Linked DNA regions of Homo sapiens: all the other regions are linked to region 1. Evidence: fine-mapped expression QTL. A gene starts in region 1. Each other region holds a variant in brackets. All regions are shown on one strand. Distances are between the middles of the regions. Region 1 holds the start of RIN2 (Ras and Rab interactor 2). Region 2 overlaps RIN2 (Ras and Rab interactor 2). Region 3 overlaps RIN2 (Ras and Rab interactor 2). Region 4 overlaps RIN2 (Ras and Rab interactor 2).

Evidence for each region. PIP is the estimated chance that this variant, and not a neighbour inherited with it, causes the effect. A credible set is the group of variants that fine-mapping cannot tell apart.
Region 2: its variant is the best candidate, but not a certain one, in a credible set for the expression of RIN2 in transverse colon (GTEx, PIP 0.84).
Region 3: its variant is the best candidate, but not a certain one, in a credible set for the expression of RIN2 in blood mononuclear cells (TOPMed, PIP 0.67).
Region 4: its variant is the best candidate, but not a certain one, in a credible set for the expression of RIN2 in whole blood (INTERVAL, PIP 0.60).

Annotation. Positions count from the first base shown.
Region 1 is chr20:19,757,057-19,759,742 of GRCh38, reverse strand. RIN2 (Ras and Rab interactor 2) reads right to left here and starts at 1,485. Exons shown (of 13, transcript NM_018993.4): 1 at 1,416-1,485. RefSeq lists an enhancer at 522-1,096.
Region 2 is chr20:19,866,562-19,869,247 of GRCh38, reverse strand. The region is part of intron 2 of RIN2 (Ras and Rab interactor 2); the gene reads right to left. Among named protein-coding and RNA genes, the nearest start is that of RIN2, 110 kb to the right of the region's middle. The variant T/C (reference allele first, on the strand shown) is at 1,564.
Region 3 is chr20:19,878,319-19,881,004 of GRCh38, reverse strand. The region is part of intron 2 of RIN2 (Ras and Rab interactor 2); the gene reads right to left. Among named protein-coding and RNA genes, the nearest start is that of RIN2, 120 kb to the right of the region's middle. The variant T/C (reference allele first, on the strand shown) is at 1,403.
Region 4 is chr20:19,941,752-19,944,437 of GRCh38, reverse strand. The region is part of intron 4 of RIN2 (Ras and Rab interactor 2); the gene reads right to left. Among named protein-coding and RNA genes, the nearest start is that of NAA20, 74 kb to the left of the region's middle. The variant T/C (reference allele first, on the strand shown) is at 1,237.

The sequences.
Region 1 (2,686 bases):
CAGGCACATGCCTTCAGGCCCAGCTAATTTTTGTATTTTTAGTAGAGATGGGGTTTCACCCTGTTGGCCAGGCTGGTCTTGAACTCCTGACCTCAAGTGATCTGCCTGCCTTGGCCTCCCTAAGTGCTGGGATTACAGGCATAAGCCACTGCACCCGGCCTATGAAGCAGGGTTCTAACAACACCCACCTGTATTTAAAATGTTGATTTTTGCTTATCATGAATTTTTTACATTCAATTTGGTTTTGTTAAAAAGATTGTATTAAAATACTATTTATCTTAATGATGGAGTGCTGCCCTGTGTGTTTCTTTTTTCCCAGTAAGCCCTTTGCACTCCCAGCAAGTGTTTCTTTTTGCTTCAGTATTTACAGTCCTTTTGGTCGAAGAGTACTCTGATGTTTCCTTACCGATGACAGCGTGTTCCTAAGAAACCCCAATGTGCCCAAAACCGCGCAAGGAAGTGCCGCTACACTGCGGAATTAGGAAAGCCCCAGGGATTTAAGAGCTCTGAGAAGACAGGCGCCTCTCAGGGCCCAGGGGACCGATCTTGCCCTGTATTTCTTGGCAACATATCATAGGCTTTCAAGCTGAACTTCTGCAAATCCTGCTGTCCCCGCGCGGTCGAGGGGCGCGCCACCGCCGGTGGGTGGACGCCGAGCTGGTGGGAGCCCAGGCCAAGGGTGGAGGCCAAGCCCAGAAGGGGGCGGGGAGGCCTCAAAGTGGGAAAGTGGCCCCGTCCCTTCCCGGCAGGAATCCGGGGCTCCTCCTCCGCCCGCTGCGCAGCCATCAATCACCGCGACAGCCCAAGTGCCCCCTGCCCGGACACAACAACCCTCCTGCTTTTCCACCCGGGGGAGGAAATCTCCGGTCGGAGCATCTGCCCTGCACACTGGCTGGACTCACCAGTGGGGTCCGCGCTGGGGATCAAAGCTGTGCGACACCGGGTCTGACCCGCGCGCTCAGGCGCAGGGAGCACTTGACACCCCACAGGCAGCCCTGCAGGTAGAACTCCTCAAAGGTCCCTACCAAACTCCGTCCGGTGCACACGCACGCACACCCGCACCTCCGCACCTCGAGCCATAGTGCCTGCACCCTCCAGCTGTCCCTCACCCCAGCCCCGCACAGGTCAGCTGAGGACACCCGGTGACCCTGCCGGGACCAGCGGCCACCTCGCGCTCCGGAATGTCACTCTGCCCCTTGTCCCCACTCCCTGATCCCCCTTCCCCCTTCCGTTCCCCACGATCCCCGAGGACGCGCTCTGGCTGTCTTCCTCAAGTCCCCTCCGGAGTAGGGAGAGAGTGCGCACAGCAGCACCCACGTCTGGAACCCCAGAGAGCCCCGCCCGTGCCCGGAGCCTCTCCGGGCTCTCTAGGTGCGGGCACAGGGGGTGGGGTCTCCGCTGCCACCGCCCCTTACCTCTCGCGGGCCCTCCCCGCAGGTCCCGGAGGCGGGGGCGACCGGTGGCCCCAAAGACGAGCGCGGGGCTGGGTTTCCCCGCCCGGGAGGAGCAAGAGGAGGAGGAGGAAGAGGAGGAAGGGGGAGAAAGGAGGGGAGGGGAGGGGAGAGGAGAGGAAAGAGGAGGAGGGGAGGGAAGGGCTTTGTGTTTGCCTCGGGCCGTCCCTCGGCAGTAGGGAGCCATCCCCCTCCCCCAGCCACCTTCCTGAGCTCGCAGAGGAGATGGGGCGGGGGTGATCGGATCGGAGGCAGCGACCAAGGCGCCTGCGCGACCCCAGGTCCGGCCCATCCCTCCATTCCCTGTAACCGCCAGCCTCCGCCCCTCTTGACAACCACCCGCTACGCTTACCCTGTTACAAGGAACCCAGGCTGCAACCAGGAAAAACTGCCATCAGAAAGTTTATCTAAGCCGGAGCAAACTTGGCTGGACCGGCCCCTGACCCGCCTTGGCGCTGCCGCCCCTGTCTTCTGCGGTCCCCGGCCAGGCGAGGACCAGAGTTTTGTTCTCGGAGATTCTTGCCTTTCTTGTTTTAGCACAAACGCGCACGCACCCCTTTCCCATAACGAGCCCCTCCGCCCAACTACAGATCCCGGGATCTGTTGCAGGGGCTGGAAAGGCCCCACTCGAGAGGCCTGAGCTGGCTGCGGCTCTTGGTTCCGGGGCAGGTTCTCCAGGGTTGGATACGCTCTGGACGCCTGGGCGGGTTGTTTTGCTTCGGCCTCGCTGGCCAGGGGCCCGCCCACCCCGCCTGGAACGCGGTTTGGATCGGCGCTGGGAGCCCTCCGTAACCCCAGCTGAAGGCCGCGCAGGCAGGCGGGGACGCCGGAGCTGCGGGGCCGGTTCCCAGCCAGCATCCAGCCTTTTCGGAATCAGGCGGGTCCCTGGTGATTCGCTGGGTTTTCCCACTTCCCACGGGGACCTCACCTTTGGGAATTAATTGCTGACAGTGTTAGAGTTACAAAGTAGCCAGTGTCACGGAGGGAACCTCAAAGAGACAAAGGGACACCTCGAAGGTGTCAGAGAGACGGTTGTTTTGGACAGAAACAGAACAGCGAAGCGGAAAGAAAACAGACCTTATTTCTGTTCTGTTCCACTTCAGATAGTAGCAGAGGAGACTTGGATTTCATTGGTGTTGGTTTTCGTGATTCCTGCCTTCTAAAATCCCAAGACTTATTTATCATTTATCATCAGCTCAGATCCCAGGAAAACAGTCCACTGCACTTCGGTTTCT
Region 2 (2,686 bases), 110 kb before region 1:
CAGCGTATATGGTCTTCATCAATTTCATTCAAACCTTTATTTGCATTTCTAATCCCTCTCTCCAGCGCAGACTCATCCACCCTGCGTGTTTCTGTATACATCACTCAGTCTCTGTTTAAAATGCCTCACCACCTGGTGAACACTTTTTTTTTTTTTTTTTTTTTTTGAGACGGAGTCTTGCTCTGTCACCCAGGCTGGAGTGCAGTGGCGTGATCTCGGCTCAACTGCAACCTCCACCTCCCGGTTCAAGCAATTCTCCTGTCTCTGCCTCCCGAGTAGCTGGAATTAGAGGCACATGCCACCACACCCAGCTAACTTTTTGTATTTTTAGTAGAGACAAGGTTTCACGATGTTGGCCAGGTTGGTCTTGAACTCCTGACCTTAGGTGATCCACCCCCCTTGGCCTCTCAAAGTGCTGGGATTACAGGTGTGAGCCAGCATGCCCAGCTAGTGAACACCTTTTTATCCCTCAAGACTTAGGTCAGAGATCATCTCTGTGCTAGCTTCCCTTCATTACCTATTCCCATTATCAGCCCTTCCCCTTTCTGGGTCCCCAAGGTCCCTCTGACAGCCTCCACAACATCATGATTATAGCTGTCTGTTTATCTCACATAGGCTGTGTGCCCCTACAGGATGGAGCACGGCCTGTTGTCGAATGTTCACGGTCTGCCCAGCATATCATAAAACCCGGATGAAACCCTAAGACCTGCCCTGCTCATTTCACGTGTTTCCTGGCCCAGTGAAAGTGTGTGGTATGAATTCAGGAGCGAATCTGTAAGAGTACTTCAAACAGTGCTGGACACTAAATAATTTACTAAAATAAAACGTTGTCCAATAAAATACATCTTCATTCCTTTGGGTATTTTACTGCATTAAGGAAAATTACCCTGTTACTCAAGCCACATGGAACCACTAAGAAACTCATAACGTAGCCAGGCGGTGGAAAGCGCGTATGTCCCAATTTCCTGTTTTTCTCCGAGACGCTGCTGCCCCAGCCTGGGTCAGGCGATGCGTGGTTTGTGGCCTGCCACTTGGGCAGCCCTGGCTCAGAAGAAAGGCCATCTTCATTTTATATGGGAAAGTTGGAGAAACCTCAGAAGAGCCGTGGTGCATAAATATCACGTCACCAAAGCAGGGAACTGGCCACACTCACAGGCCTCCTTGGGGCCTGGCTTGGTGTCAGTTCCTGCTGTGGAGCTTGGTTCGGCTCTTTGTGCACCAGCATGCCCCACGCCAGACATGACGACACTGATGGCTTTTGCAGCCCCAGCCACAGAACAGGCTGCTGATGCTGCCCTTTCTTGTCCCACGAAAACGCCTTGCAGTTCAGAGAGCAGGCCGGCTCACCCAGCTGCACAGCATTTTCAGAGCAGCTTTGGGGCCATCATCCAGCAAAGTCTAAATACCCTCCCAGTTTGATTCATCTCTCAGTTTTAGACAAACCACAACTCTTAAAATTCTCCCACTGCAGAGAAACTTGGTGGACACCACCATCTTAACTAAACTATTGGAGCTGGTGTCACCAGGAATAAAACAAACCTGCCACATGTGCCTCCTGATATC[T/C]GGGACTGAGGAGGCCACCGCATCACTCTGGGGCATTCCTGCCACGGGTGCAAAACATGAATCTACTGTGAGGAGCATCAGACAAACCTAAACTGAGGGTCACTCTACAAAAATGATTGGCCTGCATGCTCTAAAAACGTAAAGGTCTTAAAAGGCAACAAAAGCTAAGGATACATTTCAGAGTGAAGGAGTCTCTAAACAGAAGTGACAACTCAATTCAATAAATGATCCTCAGTTGGATGCTTAACTGAAAAAAAATGCTGTAAATGACATTATTGGGATAATTGGAAAAACTGAAATATGGGCAACAGATTAAAGTATTGCATCAATGTTAAATTTCCTGAATTTGGTAACTGGATTGTGATGATGTAAAAATATGTCCTTGTTCTTAAGAAGTAAACACTAAAGTATTGAGTGGTAAAGAGGCGTGACTCATGCAACTTACTGTCCAATGGTTTAGAAAAAAGTGTGTGTGTGTGCACATGAGCATGTGTGCACGTGTTGTGTGTGGAGTGAGAGGTAAAAAAGAGAAATAAAACAAATATGGTAAAATGTTAAAATGTGTTAATCTGGATAACTGACATCTTATGAGTCTCTGTACTATACTTGCAAACTTTGTGTAAATTTGAAATTATTTAAAAATGTAAAAATGCATTCCATTAAACAAAAAAAAAAATAAAAATAAACAAGATTCTTAGTGATGGTTTAACGTTTTCGCACAGCAAAACACTAACATGTGTGTTGAAAAATAAATTAATCTGGCCAGGTATGGTGGCTCACTCCTGTAATCCCAGCACTTTGGGAGGCCAAGGCGGGAGAATCGCTTGAGGTCAGGAGATCGAGATCAGCCTGGTCAACATAGTGAAACCCCATCTCTACTAAAAATACAATAATTATGCTGGTGTGGTGGTGCCTGCCTGTAATCCCAGCTACTCAGGAGGCTGAGGCATGAGAATCATTTGAACCTGGGAGGTGGAACTTGCAGTGAGCTGAGATCATGCCACTGCACTCCCGCCTGGGTGACACAGGAAGACTCTGTCTCAAAATAAATAAAATAAAATAAAATATCCAAAATTAATCTAGAAACACAATTTCACGTTAATGTTTTTTAAAAGCTTGAAAT
Region 3 (2,686 bases), 120 kb before region 1:
TGTCACTAGTAGGACACGAAATATTTCTGGCTCTCATCTTAACCAAGTAAAATGCTGCCATCGGGAATAGTTAAAGGAAGCCATATGTTCGGTCTGTTATTTTAGACTTAGTGGGTTCCATTTCTATGGAGGTTGAAGAGAGAAGAAGAAAAGATCTTCCTTTATGGAACCAGACATTAGAGATCTCATCTGCTTGTTCACAGTGGTGTCTTTAATACCTTACGTGCTGCCTGGTACGTATGTGCTCAGTAAATGTTTGCCGAATGAGTAAGTGCATAGGATTTTACAAGGAAGTCATCTAGGCTAAAGAGAAGGGTTTTTAAAGAATGACTTTCTCGGCTAGGTGCAGCAGCTCACATCTATAATCTCAGCATTTTGGGAGGCCAAGGCAGAAGGATCTCTTGAGCCCAGCAGCACAGCAAAACCTCATCTCTACAGAAAATTAGCTGGGCATGGTGGCATGTATCTGTGGTCCCAGCCACTCAGGAGGATGATGTGGAAGAATCGCTTGAGCCTGGAAGGTCAAGGCTGCATTAATCATGCAACTGCACTCCTGCTTGGGTAACAGAGTGAGACGCTGTCTCAGAAAAAAAAAAAAAAAAAAAAAAAAAAGAATGACTTCCTCTAAAGCATAAGATGATAGGAAGAGCCATGCTTATCTTTAAGAATTCCTAGGACAGATAAACGCCAGCAACACACATACCATGCTGTTGACCCACAAAACATGCTGGAAATTTTTTTTTTTTTTTTTTTTAAGACAGAGTCTCACTCTGTTGCCCAGGATGGAGTACAGTGGCATGATCTCGGCTCACTGCAATCTCCACCTTCCTGGTTCATCAATTGTCTTGCTGCCTCAGTTACCTGAGTAGCTGAGATCACAGGTGTGCACCACCATGCCCAGCTAATTTTTGTAATTTTGTTAGAGACAGAGTTTCACCATGTTGGCCAGGCTGGTCTTGAACTCCTGGCCTCAAGTGATCCGACCGCCTTGGCCTCCCAAAGTGCTGGGATGGCATGAGCCACTGCAACCGGTCTGGAAAAAAATACATATTTTTTGATACCACTTTGAAATACCAAAGAAATGAAAGAGTTTAGGGAGTCCATGTGTTCTCTCTGTGGTTGGATTTTTCTTACAGAGTTCTATGATCTGAAGATCTTTCCTCTCTCTATAGCATACAAACCTACTTTATTCTCTACAAGTCCACTAGCCAATCATGTTTCTCAGCCCTTTCATTTTTGCACAAATTGGAATTCTAGAGAAGTCTCCGGGTGTTTGTCCAAGTCAACACATCAGCATTGAAGATCACACAATGAAAAAAGTCCACGGAAACACGTGCTAAACTCCCAGTGAAATATATCGACCAGTGAAGCAAATTGACCACGCTGTGTGTTTGTGCATGTC[T/C]TTGCATCCATGTGTTGTAGGATTAGAGCCTTAAAATTTCCATGCTTTCTCTTAGGAAGTGGGCCGGAGAACAGATAGCCTCCTCTGAAGAATGTCTTCCTTGTAAGCCCACGGATTCCATGTGGACAGTCAGCGGAAGCACAGTGTCTAATATCAAAATAACAACATACCATGACACCTTCTAAACATAGTAAATGTGCCGATAACAGGTATTAATATTTAATACCATCACACAACCAGACTCCAGAAATTAGCAAGGGAAAAGCATAAAGAAAGTAACAGTTCTCCAAAATAACTTAGTATTTTGTGTGTCTATGAAAGAGTCATAAAAATCCATGTAATGCTCTCAGAGATATCTGTTGCCATCACCAGAAAGGTGGTTTTGGTGGCAGCAATTGTGCCTCAGAAGTTCAGGCATGTTTAAAAGTCTGTCTTGGCTGACCAATGGCATTCATGTCTTTTGTTAGGAGTGACAAGGACATAGGATATTTCACAAATCCAGTTTCCTATTATTCAGTTTTGCACTATTTGCAACTACCAAATAATTTCTGCTAGGCTCTGCAGGTTCTCTGAAGCTTAGGGTTTTCCTCTCAATGTTCTACCTCACCCCATCCTCTTGTTCAGACGTCTGACTCCTTCCTCTGGCAGTGGGGCCAGACAGGGCAGGTGTGGTTAGCATGGAGCCCAAGGTACAGGGGAGGAAGCAGGATTACCTCTTATCCATTGAGACTATTTGAGGGTGGGTACAAACTCATGTCCAAGAGAGACTGCTTTGAGTCATAATGATAGCAAAAGAATTAGATTATGGAAAACAGTAAAGCACGGAGGGTCGAGTGGGCCCATGGATGGATGGTCTGAGTTGACAGTAGAGACAGCATCATTGCCTGTGTCTGGGTTTTCGTGCCACCCATGAGGATGCTGGGTGGACACTGGCATTTTCAGGGACTGAGGCAAGAGGACAGATGGAAGTTCACTTATACTTTATGTCTGAATATTAAAAAAATTATACATCAAGAGAACAAACTGTTAACTAAAGTATGTTCTATTCTCCTACCACGACAAATGTGCCTTTACGAGGACTTGGGAAACCTGGTTTAAATTTAAAATTCTCAGACTCGTCTGTGTTTTGTCCCTGAACATGGGGACATGGGGTGACCCTGGTTTGTTACACCTCTTCTCCCTCCAATAGCTCTGTGGATACCCCATCCTTCATGTCCAAGTGCTGTGCATCCTTTATTCCCTCCCACACTTTTCAGCCTATGGATGCTACTCCAGGAGCAGAGT
Region 4 (2,686 bases), 180 kb before region 1:
TCCTGATCTTGGGGCAGTAGATCCTTGACCATGTATCAAAAGGAACACAAATATACACCTCAAATGCCAAGCTGCAGCCAAGATGCCTGGATAGGTGGGAGATGAAGCCAGGACTTAGCGGGGTTGGGAGAAGAGAGGTGGTGGGTCTGGGATCAACAACTTGTGGAAGAATATTAGTACCAGAGGCCCCTTATGTAGAGAGACAGAAAATAATGGCCCATACTGAAGATATCTATCAACTAAAAATCTTTGGCACAGGACAAATTCCAATTTGTGTTAAAGACATACACACACACAGAGCAAACAAAAAATTCCCAGAAAAACTTCAACTTCAAAAATACATAGAAGTTGATATCCAATGATTTCTTAACACCTTCAGACATAAAAATATTTCTTTAGAATTTTGAAGTTCAGAACTTGAGTCTAGTTATAGGTAAAAAAAAAAAAAAAAAAAAAAAAAAAGGATATTGAAATGGAATTAAACATGTCTCTGTAATATTCTATTAGTCTGGAGAAGAAGGGAAACCCCAATCCATTATTCTGGACACGGCAGGACCCTGGCCTGGCTAACACAGTTGACAGCATGGAAATTGCCAGGTGAGCAGAAGAAACCTTTTACCCACCACCCAGCATGGGAAGAGTGGTGGGCAGAGAGGCATGGGGAAATGGATTGTCTTAGAAGGACCCCTGCATATTTAGCCAAGTTTTAAGGGCTATCAGAGGCCATCCAGTTTATCTCCTTATTTGAGATCAAAATGCTAGAAATTGATAAAACTGGTCCTAGGTCCAGTTTTCCGACTTAGGGAGTTTCCCTAGAGCAAGCAAGTTCATACTTAATTCCTCAAGGCCTTTTTTTGTCCCATTAAACTCTAAAAGGAAAAAGAATCACTAGCATATTTGGGGTTACAGATTTTATTCCTCCATGGCGAAGGGCTGCTGCTTTTTGAGGGTGGAGCCCCAACTTCCTCAAAAAAGATTTGTAAGAGCATGTCACAGTAGGACTATTCTGAAAAACCTTTAGGGCCTTTGGTAATTTTTAAGTTCTATCAACTGAGGCCCAGCAGAAGAGGACACAGAAATGGGAACAAAAGCTCATGTCTGCCTCCAGGGAGACGCTGCCATTTCGGGAGGTAAGAAAAAGTGGTAGCTGTTTTGCCCAGGAACTTCCTCTGGTTGACTCTCCAGCTAGAGATGAGAAGGCCAGATACAGAGCGAATGCTGGCAGAGGCTTTCATT[T/C]GTTCCTGTAAAAATAAGAAAGAGGAACAAAGAACCTGTTGTCCTGGTTGCCCTTGGAGCTGAAAACAGGCAGAAGAAGGAGCCAGGCGGGCTCCAGTCTTGGTCCCGATGCCCTTCAAGCCCGGGGCATGCACCCTGCTTCACGGAAAGGCAAGTGTTCCATGGATTGGCAGTTTCTAGTATTTAATTGCTCTGGGTTACACTGGTGTTATTTCCTAGCAGATGAATTCTAACTAAGCAGATATTTTATGGCAGAACCAATTGCCAATATAGCAGCAATGCAAAGCCTACAGAGCACAAAATAGCTCCAATTCTGGAGTATGCTGCTGGTGACATTGTGTGGCCAAGGTCAAAATAGCTCCAACTCTGGAGTATGCTGCTGGTGACATTGTGTGGCCAAGGTTTACTGTAAACAGATAAGCTAGCCACTACATTGGAAGGTGCTACCCGTCAACAAAAACAGAATCAATTTCTAGGAAACTGCATTTCTAGGATGATCAAAAACACCTTGTAGGTCAGTGAAAAATCATGCATGATCTACCATTTAAATGGATTGTCATGCAAAAACATCAGAAGGATACACATCAAAGCAAAGAATTAAATCAGCCAACCCAACAAACAATCAAAAATGATTCTATCTTGGAGTGGGGGTGGGGTCGGGGTCAGGGTGTTGTTTATTTTTATTTTCTGCATTGTGCTTTTTCCACCATGTACACGTTTTACTTTTGGCTATCAAAAAAAGAAATCTTAAATGTTTCTTTTAAAAAACTTCCCAAAGATAACAGATATCACCAGTCAAGATAGACTGAACAGCTCTTTAGGGCATTTTTTATCTTACACTTCTTATTCGTTAATGAAATTGATGTACCTCTGACCTAGAATTACCTGCTTCCCACCTGAGGTTCTTGGGACATCTGCTGTCCTCCTCTGTTCATCTGACGTATTCTATTATGTCCCATTTCGTTACATGATACTCACTTGTTTACAATTTTTTCCCTCCTTAGGTTGTGTAAATCTTCAGGCTCCACTCTCATGGTATTTTGGTAAATATGATCCACTGAATAAATACTTTCTCTTTCTTTTTTTTTTTTTGAGATAGAGTCTCACTCTGTCACCCATGCTGGAGTGCAGTGGCTTGATCTCGGCTCATGACAACCTCCATCTTTCAGGTTCAAGCAATTCTCTTGCCTCATCCTGAGTAGCTGGGATTACAGGCATGAGCCACTGCGCCTGGCTAATTTTTGTGTTTTTACTAGAGAGGGGGTTTCACCATGTTGGCCAAGCTGGTCTCAAACTCCTGACCTCGTGATCCACCCACCTCAGCCTCCCAAAGTGCTGGGATTACAGGTGTGAGTCACCCTGCCCGGCTTAAATATTTTCTTTAATTTGAGTTTAGTTGTTGCTACATTGGTGATAGTGTAGCGAAGAGTTGGTCAACCCTCATAGAATT